Homo sapiens: one gene and its partners. The protein of the gene in region 1 purifies or fractionates together with the protein of each later gene. This does not show direct contact. Each region holds a gene or a part of one and is shown in the gene's direction. Other genes may lie near its edges.

The links.
Region 2: the proteins of KDM4A (region 1) and POLD1 purify together in Homo sapiens (pull-down; one study listed by IntAct). This does not show direct contact.
Region 3: the proteins of KDM4A (region 1) and RFC2 purify together in Homo sapiens (pull-down; one study listed by IntAct). This does not show direct contact.
Region 4: the proteins of KDM4A (region 1) and POLA1 purify together in Homo sapiens (pull-down; one study listed by IntAct). This does not show direct contact.
Region 5: the proteins of KDM4A (region 1) and FBXL4 purify together in Homo sapiens (affinity purification with western blotting; one study listed by BioGRID). This does not show direct contact.

What each region holds. Positions count from the first base shown.
Region 1 is NC_000001.11:43,670,648-43,674,165, forward strand, and holds part of KDM4A (lysine-specific demethylase 4A), read left to right. Parts: intron 1-857; coding exon 858-1,228; intron 1,229-3,518. UniProt on the Homo sapiens protein: Histone demethylase that specifically demethylates 'Lys-9' and 'Lys-36' residues of histone H3, thereby playing a central role in histone code. Does not demethylate histone H3 'Lys-4', H3 'Lys-27' nor H4 'Lys-20'.
Region 2 is NC_000019.10:50,401,336-50,404,853, forward strand, and holds part of POLD1 (DNA polymerase delta catalytic subunit), read left to right. Parts: intron 1-442; coding exon 443-589; intron 590-663; coding exon 664-789; intron 790-869; coding exon 870-1,038; intron 1,039-1,118; coding exon 1,119-1,200; intron 1,201-1,276; coding exon 1,277-1,406; intron 1,407-1,717; coding exon 1,718-1,884; intron 1,885-2,157; coding exon 2,158-2,262; intron 2,263-3,518. UniProt on the Homo sapiens protein: As the catalytic component of the trimeric (Pol-delta3 complex) and tetrameric DNA polymerase delta complexes (Pol-delta4 complex), plays a crucial role in high fidelity genome replication, including in lagging strand synthesis, and repair.
Region 3 is NC_000007.14:74,244,385-74,247,902, reverse strand, and holds part of RFC2 (replication factor C subunit 2), read left to right. Parts: intron 1-1,139; coding exon 1,140-1,241; intron 1,242-3,518.
Region 4 is NC_000023.11:24,742,408-24,745,925, forward strand, and holds part of POLA1 (DNA polymerase alpha catalytic subunit), read left to right. Parts: intron 1-822; coding exon 823-922; intron 923-2,033; exon of another isoform or gene 2,034-2,163; intron 2,164-2,192; exon of another isoform or gene 2,193-2,486; intron 2,487-3,010; coding exon 3,011-3,135; intron 3,136-3,518. UniProt on the Homo sapiens protein: Catalytic subunit of the DNA polymerase alpha complex (also known as the alpha DNA polymerase-primase complex) which plays an essential role in the initiation of DNA synthesis.
Region 5 is NC_000006.12:98,923,932-98,927,449, reverse strand, and holds part of FBXL4 (F-box/LRR-repeat protein 4), read left to right. Parts: intron 1-389; 5' UTR 390-461; coding exon 462-973; intron 974-3,518. UniProt on the Homo sapiens protein: Substrate-recognition component of the mitochondria-localized SCF-FBXL4 ubiquitin E3 ligase complex that plays a role in the restriction of mitophagy by controlling the degradation of BNIP3 and NIX mitophagy receptors.

The sequences.
Region 1 (3,518 bases):
CCGCCTCCCGGGTTCAAGTGATTCTCCTACCTCAGCCTCCCAAGTAGCTGGGACTACAGATGCTTGCTACCACGCTGGCTGATTTTTGTATTTTTAGTAGAGACGGGGTTTCACTCTGTTAGCCAGGATGGTCTCGATCTCCTGACATCGTGATCCGCCCACCTCAGCCTCCCAAAGTGCTGGGATTACAGCAGTGAGCCACCATGCCTGGCCCATGCCTGGCTAATTTTTAAATTCTGTAGAGACAGAGTCTGACTTTGTTGCCCAGGCTGGTCTTGAACTCCTGGGCTCCAGCAATCCTCCCATCTTGGCCTCCCAAAGTGCTGGGATTACAGTTTTGAACTACTGCTCCTGGTCCAACATGATTTGTGAAGTATATATAAGTTGTGGAATGGGTAAATCTAGCTGTTTAAAATACATATTCACATAGTGGTCATTTTTGCAGTGAGAACATTTAACATCCACCCTCTTAATATTTTTCAAGATCTTTAGATTTTCTAGCATGGGCTAGGTAGCCAGGTCTCTGCTGAGCTCAGACTTGCATTACCTGCAGGAGACTTTGGAGGAAATGGCAGCTGCCCCTTACTGAGTGTCTGCTGAGTGCCAGGCGGTGCTCAGGAGTCTTATTTATGAGCCCTGTAGATCTGTAGTAGCATCTTCTCATTACAGAGGAAGAAGCTGGAGGCCAGGAGGCTGAGCAAATAGCCCTGGCTCACAGTGCCCCTCAGTGACAGAGCCAGGATTGGAAGCCAGGTCCCATTCCCCGCCCATGTTCCTTGTGCTTTGCCCTCTGCCTTTCATCAGGTTCACATGTGCAGGAGGAACTTGGCTCTGTCTAATGTGTATGTGTGTTTCAGATTATTCTGACTCCACTGAAGTCAAATTTGAAGAGCTTAAAAATGTCAAACTAGAAGAGGAGGATGAGGAGGAAGAACAAGCAGCAGCTGCCTTGGATCTTTCTGTGAATCCTGCGTCTGTAGGGGGACGCCTTGTCTTCTCAGGCTCCAAAAAGAAATCATCTTCTAGCCTGGGCTCTGGCTCTTCACGGGATTCTATCTCTTCTGATTCAGAAACTAGTGAGCCTCTCTCCTGCCGAGCCCAAGGGCAAACGGGAGTTCTCACTGTGCACAGTTATGCCAAAGGGGATGGCAGGGTCACTGTGGGAGAGCCATGCACGAGGAAGAAAGGAAGCGCCGCTAGAAGTTTCAGTGAGCGGGAGCTGGCAGAGGTATGGGCTCCAGGCAGTGGTGTGGGGTGGGGAGCTGCCCTGGAGGACACCCTGTCGGGAGGGGATCTGTGTGGGGGAGGGAGGTGGATCTGTGTGATGGAGGTGCTGCAGGAGGGCAGGAGAGACCCTCAGTCAGTGCCTCTAGCCAGCAGTGGTTGTGTCAAACAAAAGCCTGGGGTGGCATTCACTCTCCCAGCTTGTTCTTTGCTGGGAGTTGCTTTTCTGTTATCCCTGTGGCTACTGATTCCAAGAATTGCATCAATGCAGCCTGAGTCACAGCAGCAGATCCTCCTCAGCCCACTTGGATCACAATGCCTTTTTTTTTTTTCTTGAGATAGAGTCTCTGCTCTGTTGCCTAGCTAGAGTGCAGTGGCATGATCTTGGCTCACTGCAACCTCTGCCTTCCAGGTTCAAGCAGTTCTCCTGCCTCAGCCTCTCGAGTAGCTGGTATTACAGGTGTGTGCCACCACACCCAGCTAATTTTTGTATTTTTAGTAGAGACAGGGTTTCACCATGTTGGCCAGGCTGGTCTGGAACTCCTGACCTCGTGATCTGCCCACCTCAGCCTCCCAAAGTGGTGGGATTACAGGCGTGAGCCACTGTGGCTGGCCTTTTGTTTTTTTTTCTTTTTTTTTTTGAGACGGGGTCTCGCTCTGTTGCCCAGGCTGGAGTGCAGTGGCACGATCTTGGCTCACTGCAAGCTCCGCCTCCTGGGTTCACACCATTCTCCTGCCTCAGCCTCCCGAGTAGCTGGGACTACAGGCGCCCACCACCACGCCCAGCTAATTTTTTGTATTTTTAGTAGAGACTGGGTTTCACCGTGTTAGCCAGGATGGTCTCGATTTCCTGACCTTGTGATCCGCCTGCCTTGGCCTCCCAAAGTACTGGGATTACAGGCGTGAACCACCGTGGCTGGCCTTTTCAACTGGGGTAGGCAGGAACTCTTCCTCTGATCCTCATTGCCTTAGCGGCACCAGGGTTAGAATGGCTGCTGTTGGAGCCCACGTGTTTGGAGGTTTGGGATCAGATGAGATGACCTTTCTTACCTTGAAATTCAAGGGTTTTTTTCTTACACCTCTTGACTGCCCTGTAGACTCCCAGTATGACATTGATAGAGCATCCTTTTGGAGACCAAGATGCATTCCCAAAGCTATAAACACGAACATGTGTGTTCAGGCTTCCTCCTTAAATACATGTTGTCACCAAAAGCTGATTCCTGCTTTTGTGCAAAATGGCTCTTGGTGGGTCTGCCACTCTGAGTGATCAGTCATGTCAGATGCCACTGGACCCCCACTACCCAAGTGACTTTCCCTGACTCCCCAGCCTTGGAGCTTATGTGGGTCAAGCTGCAGTCTTTGGTGAGGGGTGGGAGATAGAAGAAGCCAGTGCAGAAGGTCCTCTTTATTCCCTATTCCCTTACCTTTAGTTTTTAAAAATGTATCTTAAAAATCTTCACTATGGAAAATTTCTGACGTACGTACAAAATACCATCACGAGCCCCCGCGTGTACTCATCATATATATGATTAACATTTGGCACATTTGCTTTCTGTTTTCTTTGGCTGCAGTACTTGACACTCAGTCATATTCACATTTCCCTAGTGTTGCCAATAGTCCCTTTTTATGGTAGGTTTGTCTCCTTGTTGTTGATACTCATAACTTTTCTCGGTGCCTTCTCTGAATCTCAGGGTACGGTTTTGGTAGACTTCTTTTTACCTTGTGAATGTTCCTCTTTCCATCCCACTGTGGTTGCAGGCTAATGAGCTAATAACTACTGTGTTTCCTTCTCATTGCCTCTGATTGCAGTTCTCTGTGCCTTCTTATGGCAGCTTCCATAAAGGAGGGCTTTTTCAGCCTGGAAACCAGAGTCTCTTTAACTCCCAGTTGCCACCTAGCAATTCTTCCTTCGCAGAGGCCCCGGGCCATTTCATCCATCCTACTGTTGACTACTGTTCACTACAGTTCATGCTGTCCTCTTGCTGAGTCTTCCTGACATTCTTGTTTCTAGTTGCAATCACAATCACAAAAAGCAGCTAAGAAGTAGCAAGAGCTCACTGTATATTAAATACTTTGTTTATCTTTTTTGAGACAGGGTCTTGCTCTGTTGCCCAGGGTAGAGTGCAGTGGCACAGTCTTGGCTCACTGCAACTTCTGCCTTCTGGGTTCAACCCATCCTCCCCACCTCAGCCTCCCAAGTAGCTGGGACTACAGGTGCACACCACCACTCTTGGCCAATTTTTGTATTTTTCGTAGAGATGGGGTTTCAACATGTTGCCCAGACTGGTCTCGAA
Region 2 (3,518 bases), on another chromosome or scaffold:
ATATAATATGTGTGTGTATTTGTGTATATGTGTATATATATATATATATATATATATTTTTTTTTTTTTTTTTTTTTTTTCTTTTTTTTGAGACTGGGTCTCGCTCTTTTGCCCAGGCTGGTCTCAAAGTCCTGGGCTCTAGCGATCCTCCCGCCTTGGCCTCACAAAGCACTGGAATCACAGGTGTGAGTCACTGTGCACGGCCAGTTGTTTTTATCTTGTAATAAAAAAGAAGGGCCTCCCTGTAGTTGTGCTGTGGAGAATGGATCCTGGGGGATGAGGCTGGAGATGGGAACCAGGGGGGAGGCTGAAATGGACACAGGGAACGGTACAGGGGCAGGAGTGCCCCAGGCTGCAGGCCCCAAGGTATTTCGAGGCTGTGGAGACACACCTTGGAGGACCCTGAGAGGCATGGCCGCTGTCTTACCCTGTGACCCCACAGGCCCAGCGCAGCCTGTGCCTGGGGGGCCCCCACCATCCCGCGGCTCCGTGCCTGTGCTCCGCGCCTTCGGGGTCACCGATGAGGGGTTCTCTGTCTGCTGCCACATCCACGGCTTCGCTCCCTACTTCTACACCCCAGCGCCCCCTGGTGAGTGGCCCCTACCCAGCCCCTCCCTGAGCCACTGGAGCCCCCTGCACCTCTGATCATCCCTCCCACACCAGGTTTCGGGCCCGAGCACATGGGTGACCTGCAACGGGAGCTGAACTTGGCCATCAGCCGGGACAGTCGCGGGGGGAGGGAGCTGACTGGGCCGGCCGTGCTGGCTGTGGAACTGTGCTCCCGAGAGAGTGAGTGCTCCCCCAGGATCAGCGGGTTGGAGGGTCCCCTCGGGAGGCCATTGGCTGGTCCCAGCTTCTTCCATCCACAGGCATGTTTGGGTACCACGGGCACGGCCCCTCCCCGTTCCTGCGCATCACCGTGGCGCTGCCGCGCCTCGTGGCCCCGGCCCGCCGTCTCCTGGAACAGGGCATCCGTGTGGCAGGCCTGGGCACGCCCAGCTTCGCGCCCTACGAGGCCAACGTCGACTTTGAGATCCGGTACGGCCTCTGCCTCACTTCTCCGGCCTCTATCCCCACCCTCGGGCAGCCCCTGTCCACTGACCCCCAGCCCCCTCCAGGTTCATGGTGGACACGGACATCGTCGGCTGCAACTGGCTGGAGCTCCCAGCTGGGAAATACGCCCTGAGGCTGAAGGAGAAGGTGCAGGGCTTCCCAGGGCAGGGCTGGGTGGGGAGCTGGTACCCTGCTGCCACCGCTGACCCACCCATGCCCACAGGCTACGCAGTGCCAGCTGGAGGCGGACGTGCTGTGGTCTGACGTGGTCAGTCACCCACCGGAAGGGCCATGGCAGCGCATTGCGCCCTTGCGCGTGCTCAGCTTCGATATCGAGTGCGCCGGCCGCAAAGGTCTGTCCCCGGGCCCGGGCTCCTGCCCGCCTCATTGATGTGCCAAGTCGGGGGTCGGAAAGGCAGGTCCGGTGGAGGGAATGGCAAGCATGAAGGTGCCGGGGCAGGAGCACCCCAGCCCATGTGGCCAGATGGAGTGAGCACAGAGGGTGTGGAGATGGCCTGGAGGTGAGAGCAGAGCAGGAGCCAGGGTGAGCCACGTAGGGCCGGCAGGCAGCGGGGACAGCCCCGGGGAGATGGCAGGTGCAGCCTCCCTGCTGTGTTGGGAGTGAGGGGCAGGAGTCAGGCCCCTGCATCCTCCTGCCTCGCAGGCATCTTCCCTGAGCCTGAGCGGGACCCTGTCATCCAGATCTGCTCGCTGGGCCTGCGCTGGGGGGAGCCGGAGCCCTTCCTACGCCTGGCGCTCACCCTGCGGCCCTGTGCCCCCATCCTGGGTGCCAAGGTGCAGAGCTACGAGAAGGAGGAGGACCTGCTGCAGGTAGCTCTCGCTCCACGCCCCACACCATTTCCCGGGGTCCCCGCCAGCCTCCGCGTCCTGAGCCATCAGCTCCTGGGTGCTGCGACGCCCATGTCTGTGGGTCTGGGTGGGTGTCTGTGGGTCTGGGTGGGCCCCTGTGCAATTAGGCTTGAGCACTTCCCCTCTGGGTTCTGCAGGATTTTCAGGGGTGGCTGGGGTTCTAGAACATTCTGGAAGTAGGGGAATCCGAGGCAGGGCAACCACCAGGGTGACCCAATGTGCTCCCACCCCCAGGCCTGGTCCACCTTCATCCGTATCATGGACCCCGACGTGATCACCGGTTACAACATCCAGAACTTCGACCTTCCGTACCTCATCTCTCGGGCCCAGACCCTCAAGGTGAGGGCTGGGCAGGTGGGAGGCTTCTCTCAGATGCCCCAGGTGTGGCCTCCGGGCCCTGGGCCTCCTTCCCACTCCCTCTCCACATGGCTTGGTGCATCTTGCTCTGTGTGCCTCAGCCGATTGCCTGCAGGGGCAGCCTAGGCCTGGTCCTGCCCTGCTCCAAGTCGAAAAAGTTACTGTGGCTTTTATCAGAGGCAAGGAGGGCGTTACGGTGGAGTAAGAGAAGGCTGTGCATTCAAGGTCGGCCTGAAGCTTGCAGGGGTTCAACAAGCCATGAAGCAGCCACTGAATCCCAGTCTTCCTTTAGGTTATATCAGCATAAGGAAAAGAATCATAATGGAGGAGGAGGGGGGAGTGTGTTGACTGATGGGGCAAATTCCGGATGCTTCTTGAGTCTGCATGTGTGTAAGGGTGGATTCCTCTGCCCGAGTTGCTGTAACAAAGAGCCACAGACCAGGTGGCTGAAAACAGCAAAAAGTCATTGTCTCACCGTCCTGAAGGCTGGAAAGTCCATGACCAAAGTGTCAGCGGGCCTGCTTCCTTCGGGGGCTGCAAGGGAGGACTGGTTCACGGCCTCTCTCCTTGGCTTGCAGACGGCCATCATCCCCCTGTGCCTCTTCACACCGTCTTCTCTCTGTGCGTGTCTGTTTCCACATGTCCTCCCTTTTTTTTTTTTTTCCAAGACAAAGTCTCGCTCTGTCGCCCAGGCTGGAGTGCAGTGGCGCAATCTTGGCTCACTGCAAACTCCGCCTCCCAGGTTCATGCCATTCTCCTGCCTCAGCCTCCCAAGTAGCTGGGACTACAGGCGCCCGCCACCACGCCTGGCTAATTTTTTGTGTTTTTAGTAGAGACGGGGTTTCACTGTGTTAGCGAGGATGGTCTTGATCTCCTGACCTTGTGATCCGTCTGCCTCGGCCTCCCAAAGTGTTGGGATTATAGGCGTGAGCTACTGCACCCAACCCCTTTTCTCTTTCTTTTTTTTTTTTTTTTTTTTTTGAGACAGAGTCTCGCTGTGTCGCCCAGGCTGGAGTGCGATGGCACGATCGAGGCTCACTGCAACCTCCACCTCCCAGGTTCAAGCGATTCTCCTGCCTCAGCCTCCCAAGTAGCTGGGATTACAGGCGTGAGCCACCACGCCCCGCAAATTTTTGCTTTTTTGTTATTGTTTCTTGAGATGGAATTTCGCTCTTGTTGCCCAGGCTGGAGTGCAATGGCACGATCTTGGCTCACCACAACCTCCGCCTCCCAGGGGG
Region 3 (3,518 bases), on another chromosome or scaffold:
GGACTTGAGCAAAAGTGAATTTTGGTGTCTGAGGAAGGGCCTAGCACCAGTCCCCAGGAACACCAAGGGACAGCTGCATATTGTTCACTCCTTGATTCTTCAGTTAGGGAAAATGTCTGGAGGATATTGGCATCTGAAGATTCATAGTCTGAGATTTTGCTTATTGATCAATTTCACCATCAGTAGCATTTAGAATGTTGCTATTGGTGTCTCTGCAGTTCTGTACTGTTCTGTTCTGTTCTTTTCTTTCTTTCTTTTTTTTTGAGACAGAGTCTTGCTCTGTCACCCAGGCTGGAGTGCAGTGGCACGATCTCGACTCACCATAACCTCTGCCTTCTGGGTTCAAGCGATTCTCGTGCCTCAGCCTCCCAAGTAGCCGGGACTACAGGCGTGCGCGGGCACGCCCAGGTAATTTTTGTATTTTTAGTAAAGATGGATTTTCGCCGTGTTGGCCAGGTTGATCTTAAACTGGCCTGGAGTGGTCCGCCCACCTTGGCCTCCTAAAGTGTTGGGATTACAGGTGTGAGCCACCATGCTTGGCCTACATTGCAGTTATTTTCTGATTCACCTAATAATTAGGAAGAGTCCTCCTCTCAATTTTTTTCTCTTTCCTGTTGTGGGTAGAGAATGAAAAATTTTGAATTCTTGGCTGTGGTTAGTGAAAGCTTACAAGATAACAAAGGTGGTATATCTGCACTTCTATTACATCTTTTGAAAGATAATATGGTATCTCAAGCAATGCAGTTAAAAAACTGAAGGATGAGGCTTTTTTTTTTTTTTGAGACGAATTATCGCCAGGCTGGGGTGCAGTGGCGTGATCCCGGCTCACTGAACCTGGGAGGCAGAGCTTGCAGTGAGCCAAGAGGGCCACTGCACTCCAGCCTGGATGACACAGCGAGACCCTGTCTGAAGAAAAAAAAAAAAAAAGTGTATATTTTCTTTGTTCTTTGAAAGACCTCCAAGAAAGAACAAATGCCATAAAATCTCAATCCTTATAAATAGTTACAATTGCCCCCCAAAAAAACTCAAAAATGGAAATTGGGCCTCACAGTCCCTGATATACCGATTGTTTAAAAGTCCTTGTGAAGGCAACTGAATTGGTCTCAGAAGGTGCCAGTAAAAACCTGTCATTCTTTCAGGGGCATTGACGTTGTGAGGAATAAAATTAAAATGTTTGCTCAACAAAAAGTCACTCTTCCCAAAGGCCGACATAAGATCATCATTCTGGATGAAGCAGACAGGTAGAGTGCTTTGCCAAATGTATTTTGACCTTGATCTCTAAATCTCTTTTTCGGTTTTATTCAATCAGGATAAAAAGCACTTTTATGGTAGATTTGCTTATCATATCTTCCACAAGCAATTTAATAGGGGCCTGCACCTTAAATCTTATCTTTATTAAGTAACTTACAAACATTTGTCTAAGATAGTCATTCATTTAATGTGCTGGTTTCAGCATCTCTTACGTTAATAATTTAAATGAGGGTTTTTGTTTTTTTTTTTTTTTGAGATGGAGTTTCTCTCTGTCACTCAGGCTGGAGTATAGTGGTGTGATCTCTGCTCACTGCAACCTCCGCCTCCCGGGTTCAGGCGGTTCCCTGGCCTCAGCCTCCCAAGTATCTGGGACTACAGGCATCTGCCGCCACACCCGGCTAATTTTTGTATTTGTATTTGTATTTGTATTTGTATTTATTTATTTATTTTTTTTTTGAGACAGAGTCTCGCTCTGTCTCCCAGGCTGGAGTGCAGTGGTGCGATTTCAGCTCACTGCAACCTCCGCCTCCTGGGTTCACGTGATTCTCCTGCCTCAGCCTCCCGAGTAGCTGAGACTACAGGCATGCACCACCACGCCCAGCTGATTTTTTGTATTTTTAGTAGAGAAGGGGTTTCACCATGTTAGCCAGGGTGGTCTCAATCTCCTGACCTCGTGATCCGCCCGCCTCAGCCTCCCAAAGTGCTGGGATTACAGGCATGAGCCACCGAGCCTGGCCTAATTTTTGTATTTTTAGTAGAGATGGGGTTTCGCCATGTTGGCCAGGCTGGTCTCGAACTCCTGACTTCAGGTGATCTACCCGCCTCGGCCTCCCAAAATGCTGGGATTATAGGTGTGAGCCACTGTGCCTGGCCTGTAAATTTTTTTATTGTGGTTAAATGGACATAATTAACCATAAATTTTTTTTTTTTTTTTTTTGTGAGACGGAGTCTTGCTCTGTCGCCCAGGCTGGAGTGCAGTGGCGCAATCTTGGCTCACTGCAAGCTCCACCTTCTGGGTTCACGCCATTCTTCTGCCTCAGCCTCTCGAGTAGCTGGGACTACAGGCGCCCTCCACCACGCCCAGCTAATTTTTTTGTATTTTTAGTAGAGACGGGGTTTCACTGTGTTAGCCAGGATGGTCTTGATCTCCTGGCCTCATGATCCGCCCGCCTCGGCCTCCCAAAGTGCTGGGATTATAGGTGTGAGCCACTGCGCCCGGCCCAAAATTTACCATTTTAACTATTTTGAAGTATACAGTTCAGTGGCATTTAGTACATTTGCAATGTTGTGCAACCATCACAACACTTCGGTTGGTATAAATGAAGAATCTGAGTCCAGGCTCGGTGGCTCATGCCTGTAATCCCAGCACTTTGGGAGGCCGAGGCAGGCGGATCACCTGAGGTCGGGAGATGGAGACCAACATGGAGAAACTTCGTCTCTACTAAAAATACAAAATTAGCCAGGTGTGGTGGCACATACCTGTAATCCCAGCTACTTGGGAGGCTGAGGCAGGAGAATTGCTTGAACCCCGGAGGCGAAGGTTGTGGTGAGCTGAGATCATGCCATTTGCACTGCAACCTGGGCAACAAGAGCGAAACTCCATCTCAAAAAAAAAAAAAAAATTGAAATGACATTAAGAAAAGAATATAGAACCCTAACCCTATAACGTTGTTTTTTGTTGTAGTTTTTGAGACAGGGTCTCACTATATCACTCAGACTAGAGTCCAATGGCACAGTCATAGCTCACTGCAACCTTGAACTCCTCGGCTGTAATGATCCTCCACCTCAGCCTCCCAAGTAGCGGAGACTACAGGCTTGTGCAACTGCAACCAGCTATTTTTTTTTTCACAGGGGCAGGATCTCACTATGTTACCCAGGCTGGTCTCAAACTCCTGGCCTCAAGTGATCTGTCTGCCTCGGCCTCCCAAAGTGCTAGGATTGCAGGCATGAGGTGCTGTGCCTGGCGAAATAAATTTTTTTTAGGGCCAGGTGCGGTGGCTCACACCTGTAATCCCAGCACTTTGGGAGGCCGAGGCGGGCAGATTGCTTGAGGTCAGGAGTTCGAAACCAGCCTGGCCAACGTGGAAACCCCGTCTCTACTAAAAGTATAAAAATTAGCCGGACATGGTGGCGCCCAGGCTGGAATGCAATGGTGCTTGTAATCCCAGGTACTAAGGAGTCCAAGGCAGGAGAATCGCTTGTACCCGGGAGACAGAGGTTGCAGTGAACTGAGATGGTGCCAGTGCACACCAGCCTGGGCAACAGAG
Region 4 (3,518 bases), on another chromosome or scaffold:
CTGGCACCTCAGCCCTATCCAAAGATAAATGCCAGTTAAACTTTTTATTTTCTTAAACCTATGAGCCTTTATTTTTGTGTTGCATTTTTCTGTACTAGTATGACCAAGGTCACCCACAGTCAGGTTTCTGAAGTAGCCTCCATCACTTTGGAACTAAAACTTAGTTTAGCTACTGTTTTATTAGCACTGATATTAATTAATTCAGAAATGGGAATTGAATGTTAGAATTTGATTCAGGTTCTCATATTTGCTTGTTTTTTAATGTACATTATCAAAATTGGTATAGGGCATATTCATTTAGAGGACTTTAACTTCTGCTGAGGTATTGAATGTTGGCCAGTAATAAACTACTTAGGAATGGATTTTCAGTATATGGATGTACTTGTTTTATGGTGTCCATATTAATAATAGGGATAATGATAATACCTGCATGAAGTATTTTATGTTTTTACATCACGAATGTTAGAGTAGTGATTTTAAGAGGGCTGTTTTATAATCTCAAATTTTATATAACATGAAAAGTGGTATTTTTCAATATTCATTGATTTAAAAATATGAAATTCTGTAAATTCAAAAACACATAAAAATAGAATTTTCATATTTGTTAACTCAGGATATAGTATTTGTTTAAGAAATTACTATGCTTGGGATTCATTTGGATTCGTGAACATATTACAATAACTGTCTTTCCCAACAGATAGGACCACTAACTGAAATGTTTGTTAGAACTAAGTCCTGCAATTGGAAAAGAGAGAATCATCAAAATTTTAAATTAGTTAATTAGTTGCTGGCTGGTGAAGTTATCTTTCCATTTGATATTAGGGAGATGAAGATGAAGAAATTGATGGAGATACCAATAAATACAAGAAAGGACGTAAGAAAGCAGCTTATGCTGGAGGCTTGGTTTTGGACCCCAAAGTTGGTAAGGCTGGGCAGTGAATTGGTTTTCTCCCAGTATTAAGGAATTTCTTAATGTGGATCTAGGCTTGAGAAACTAGAAGACTGAATTATATCTTATAGATCAGCGAATAGGTCTCATGACTTTTATCTTTCGTTCACGTGAAAATCTTGGTTGCCAGTCACCTGACATAGACTTAATGTGAATTTTGTTATGCTGTGTTCCAATAAAATATTATTTATAGACATTGAAATTTAAATTTCATATAGTTTTCATATGTCATGAAATATTGTTTTTGATTTTTTTCCAGCCATTTAAAAATGTAAAAACCATACTTAAGCTCATGGGTGGTACAAAAATAAGTAGGTTGGATTTGGTCTGTAGCCGTAGTTTGTCTAATACATAGATAGCTGTCCAGTACATAGATAGCTGTTTGTCCTGACCAGTTCAGTTGACAGCAAAGTTGAAGGACGTGCAGACAATAACCACCAAATTTAACTTTAATAGGAGAATATCTTTTTCCCTATTGTCATGAATGGCAAAGATGTTTTGTGGTACACAGAGCTAGAAATAATTTTTTTTTCTTTTTTTCTTTTTTTTTTTTGGAGACAGAGTTTTACTCTGTTGCCCGGGCTGGAGTGCAGTGGTGCGATCTCTACTCACTGCAACCTTCACCTCTTGGGTTCAAGCGATTCTCCTGCCTTAGCCTCCTGAGTAGCTAGGACTACAGGTGTGTGCCAGCATACCCAGCTAATTTTTTTGTATATATAAAAAAACATTTCAACCCTTCCCAAGTGTACAGTTCAGCAGTAGTGTTAAGAATATTCACATTGCTGTGAAGGAATTAATGTGAATTTTATCTAATAAGTTAGTTCTGAGTAGGAAACATTTTTGACAAAAGTGATTTTGTTATTAGTTATAATGAAATGGAGCAGTAGTACTTGGTGTTATGTAGGTCTGGGTTTGAATTCAGTGTGATCTTGGGCTGCCTGTTTAACCTCTGTAAGCCTCAGTTTCTTCTGTAAAATAGAGTTAAGAGTAATATCTACCACACAGGGATTTAAGGATAAATTAGTATAGTGCTGGACACAGAATAAACTATCCTATATGTTTGCAATTATTATTGTCTTAATAGTGGACATTTATTTTTATTCAGTTTCTTCTCAAGGTGAAGATAACTCTTTGTAAATGTCCTACAGAAATATAGTAGCTTTCTGTTCTTCCTTTGCAAGTAAAAAGGGTGGGTCGTTCCACTACTGACATTTATATATATGTGTCTCTTGTTTGATTTTAGCTCAGTTTTTGTACAGGTAAATGTGCCGTCCATTTTATTTTTTGAAGCTGTTGTAAAAGAATAAATTACTCTACCAGGCGCGGTGGCTCACGCCTGTAATTTCAGCACTTTGGGAGGCTGAGGCAGGCAGATCACGAGGTCAGGAGATCGAGACCGTCCTGGCCAACATGGTGAAGCCCCATCTCTACTAAAATATAAAAAATTAGCCGAGCACGGTGTTGCGCGCCTGTAGTCCCAGCTATTCGGGAGGCTGAGGCAAGGGGACTCACTTGAACCCGGGAGGCAGAGGTTGCGGTGAGCTGAGATTGCGCCATGGCACTCCATCCTGGAGACAGAGTGAGACTCTGACTCAAAAAAAAAAATAAAAATAAAAATAAACCACTCACTTGGTTTTATTTGGGGTGGGGGGTGGGAGAGTAGGTAGGAGGATTCTTCAAAGAATTCTTGCTTTGAAGGAGAGTTGAACATTTTTTTTTTTTTAATGGATGTGACACGTCTCAGATAGCTGATTGGGAAGGTATTTGCTCATAATAATGGTGTGCTTTGGGGACAGCTGGGGAAAGGACTGGTTGTAGCTGGTTCTAAAGAGAGACAGGATCTTTTTCTCCCTCTTCTTTTGTGATCTGGCTTTTCACTAATCCGCATCATTTTATGAAATGGTAGTTGATTCTTTTTTTCCCTTTTTGTCTGTTTCACAGCTCTGGGTAGTGTATATGGATAGTATATAGTTTCTAATATACTTACAGTGCTTTTAATAATGATGTTTTGACAATTCTGCTTTTCTTTAGACTTTTTATGACGTGGCTTTTTAATTTCAGGTTTTTATGATAAGTTCATTTTGCTTCTGGACTTCAACAGTCTATATCCTTCCATCATTCAGGAATTTAACATTTGTTTTACAACAGTACAAAGAGTTGCTTCAGAGGCACAGAAAGTTACAGAGGTTTGTATTTAACCTGGGACTCTTGAAATTGAGTTTAAAAAAATTGCTTAAAGAAGGAAGATCTGTGTCTTTTTAAAATAGTTTTATTGTGGTATTATTCATATACCATATACTTCACCTGTTTGAAGTGTGTAGTTCAGTGGCTTTTAGTGTATTCCCAGAGTTTGCAACCATCATCACAATGAGTTTTAGGATATTTTCATTATTCCCCAAAGAAACCTTTTAGCTGTCACCTCCCTCAATCCCCATCCCTTCCACCTCTAGGCAACTACTAATCTTTTTGCTTTTATAGATTTGTGTATTCTGGACGTCTCATATAAATAGAATCATACATTATATGGCCTTTCGGTATCTGGCTTATTTCACTTATAATGTTTTCAAGG
Region 5 (3,518 bases), on another chromosome or scaffold:
GCAATGTCTAAGATTATTTTGAATTTACAGCAGTATTTTAGTGGTTCACCATATAATTTAAATAATTTTAATTTTCAGATTCAAAGACTTAGTATTTCTTGAGTGATGGTTATAATTTTGTATAAAATACGGCTTTTTGGATTGTATATCTTCCAATTGCCTTATAATATAGTTTTGCTTCCCATATTGTATGCATAACAATATTTAGGTTTCTTAAAAATACATTAGAAAATTTATTTATACCAGACTTCACATTTGTATTTTAAAACTTGTTTTTTTAGTTTCATTCTGAGAAATTACATTGAGGGTAGAGCCTGTTCATTACCTTATCCATGCATTTTTCTGCTTATTTAAATTATTTTACTTCACCAAGCCATTCATTTTTTTAGAACATCCTTCAAAGAGTTCATGCATCTTACTGAGGACACCTGACCTTTTGAAGCTTCATAATTCACATCTAGATGTCACCGGTCTTTCCCATGTTAACAGTTCTGACCATGTTTTATTATATATGCCTTCGGCGCCGAGCCAGGACAGCTACAAGAGGAGAAATGATGAACACCCATAGAGCTATAGAATCAAACAGCCAGACTTCCCCTCTCAATGCAGAGGTAGTCCAGTATGCCAAAGAAGTAGTGGATTTCAGTTCCCATTATGGAAGTGAGAATAGTATGTCCTATACTATGTGGAATTTGGCTGGTGTACCAAATGTATTCCCAAGTTCTGGTGACTTTACTCAGACAGCTGTGTTTCGAACTTATGGGACATGGTGGGATCAGTGTCCTAGTGCTTCCTTGCCATTCAAGAGGACGCCACCTAATTTTCAGAGCCAGGACTATGTGGAACTTACTTTTGAACAACAGGTGTATCCTACAGCTGTACATGTTCTAGAAACCTATCATCCCGGAGCAGTCATTAGAATTCTCGCTTGTTCTGCAAATCCTTATTCCCCAAATCCACCAGCTGAAGTAAGGTAAGACTAATTTTTTAATGACCTAAGTTATATGGTAGAAAGGTTTTGGTTGTTAATATTGGAGATCTTTTTTATTGCAAGCATTCTTTTAAGTAACTTAATTGAATTTGATTTTGAAAATTTTCCTTAGTTTTCTGATGGGGAAGAGAGATCACTCATATAAAGATTTAATTCAGGCTTTATACCTGTAATACCTCATACTGTAATATTCATGGCTTATGATATTTGTATCTCATAAAATTTACCAAAACCAAAAAGCACAATTTGAACTCATAGGGACATGGGCCATTCTGGGACGTTAGTACGAAATATGACTTTGAAAATATTTTCAAACAGGCATCATGTTACTACTTTTAAATCTTTTCAACAACTCACAATAGGCCTGTGAGTGACACTTCAGAGGAGGTCCTTAGGGGATTTGGTTTAACGTTAGTTGAATGTTTTTGCAACACCCATATTCATTTAAAAATCAATGTTGCTTTAAGTAATTCATGCATTCTCCCTACAAGCCTGTTTTGCATAACAGCTCCTTGGCTGTCGTTTTTGTCATTCAACCTCCTAATTTTACAAAATATTAATATAATGCAGTCTCACATGTACCCTGTTCTCCATGTGCCTAGGACCCATTCCTCCCTCGAAGAAACCACTTTTATCAGCTCATTTTGTATCTTTCCAGAATTTCTTTGTGCAGACACAAGCAAATACAAATATAATTTTATATTTTTATACACAAAAGTAAGCATATTTATCACACTGTTCTGTACCTTGTTTCACACAGTAGTATATGTTGGATCTTTTCTTGTAAGTACAAAGAGAGCTTCCTCATTCTTTCCTGCATTTGCAAGTAATGCATAGTGTGTATGAACCCCAACTTATTAACTAGTCCCCCATTGATGGGCACTTAGTTGTTTCTAGTCTTTTGCTCTTATAAACATTAATGCAGGGAATGACCTTATCATAAGTCACTTTGCATGTGTGCAAGTATATCTGTGGGATAAATTTCCTAGAAGAAGGCTACTCAACCAAGGATAATTTGATAATTTTGTAATGTTTAACATTTTTTTTTTGCATTTTAACAATTTATTCTTAGTTACATTTAATTTTAATTTTTAACAGTTGTAATTTTCATATGTAATGCCAAATTTCTCTCCAAAGAGTCTGTACTATTTATATTCCCACTAGCAGGGCATGTACATGGGTGTTTTGCCAAAGCCTCGCCTACAGAGTATGTTTATAAATTTCAATATTTTTGCAATTTAATAGGTGAAAAATGTTATCTCATGTTAACTGTTAAAATTCTTTTATTATCTCTGAGGTTGAAATCTTTTCATATGTTTAAAAGCCATTTATATTTCTTTTTCCTTTAACTATCTGATCATATTATTTGCTCATTTTTTCTATTACTCATGGATCTTAGCAGTTTCTAGGACTTCATATCACTTTATTAAATCACTCGTTCATTAAATATTTTAGTGCCTACCTAATGTGCTAGGTGTTGTTCTAGGTATTAGAGATGTGTCAGCGAGCAGTGAACAAAATAAATAAAAATTCCCGCTCTCATTCTAGCCTGAGAGCAGATCAGGGCACCTGTTCAACTGTAGGGATGGCCAGCTGCCAGTGCAGGAGGAGGCGGGCAGAGGTCAGCTGCTACCTCCGTAACATGCAGCTCCTCTGATATCTCTGTCCCCTCATCTCTAAGGGAATACTTCCAGGGCCTGCCAGAAAACATACAGAGTACAGCTCAACTTGGAGATTGCTGGTATAATCTTTACTTTTTTTTCCAGAACTACCTAATAATTCATTGCAAATAATGTTATTAGTCGTTTTTTAAACTCAGAAAGCCAGCATACCTTAATTAAAATCAGATTTTTGTTTTCTCCCTAAGAGGAAAAAATGGAGTAGGATCTTTTGTTTTGTTTTGAGACAGGGTCTCACTCTGTCGCCCAGGCTGGAGTGTAGTGGCACGATCTTGGCTCACTGCAACCTCTGCCTCTCGGGTTAATGAGATTCTCCTGCCTCAGCCACCTGAGCGGCTGGGATTACAGGTGCGTGCCACCATGCCTGGCTAATTTTTGTATTTTTAATAGAGATGGGGTTTCACCAGGTTGGGCAGGCTGGTCTCGAACTCTTGACCTCAGGTGATCCGCCTGCCTCGGCCTCCCAAAGTGCTGGAATTACAGATGGGAGCCACTGTGCATGGCAGGATCTTTTCTTATATGAGAATTGTTTTATTAGGACTCTGACATTCTTCTTACAAAGTTACCTACTTTTTTCCAAAAATCTGAAAAGATTTAGGGAGGAGATCAATGGAACATGTAATGTGTTTTCTCCAGTCTAAAACTTAACAGCTGCATAACTAATTTTAAGTACAAATCATGCTCTTGGGTTACTGAGAGTTACTGGTATATGGTTGTGATTAAAGTTAAAACTTTATTTATACCTGTATCTCTAATTTTCTTTACTGATTTTCAGCTTTAGTCTACTGAAAATACCATTACATTTTAAGAGAAAAAAAGGTGACCAATATATTATTAAGATATAAGAA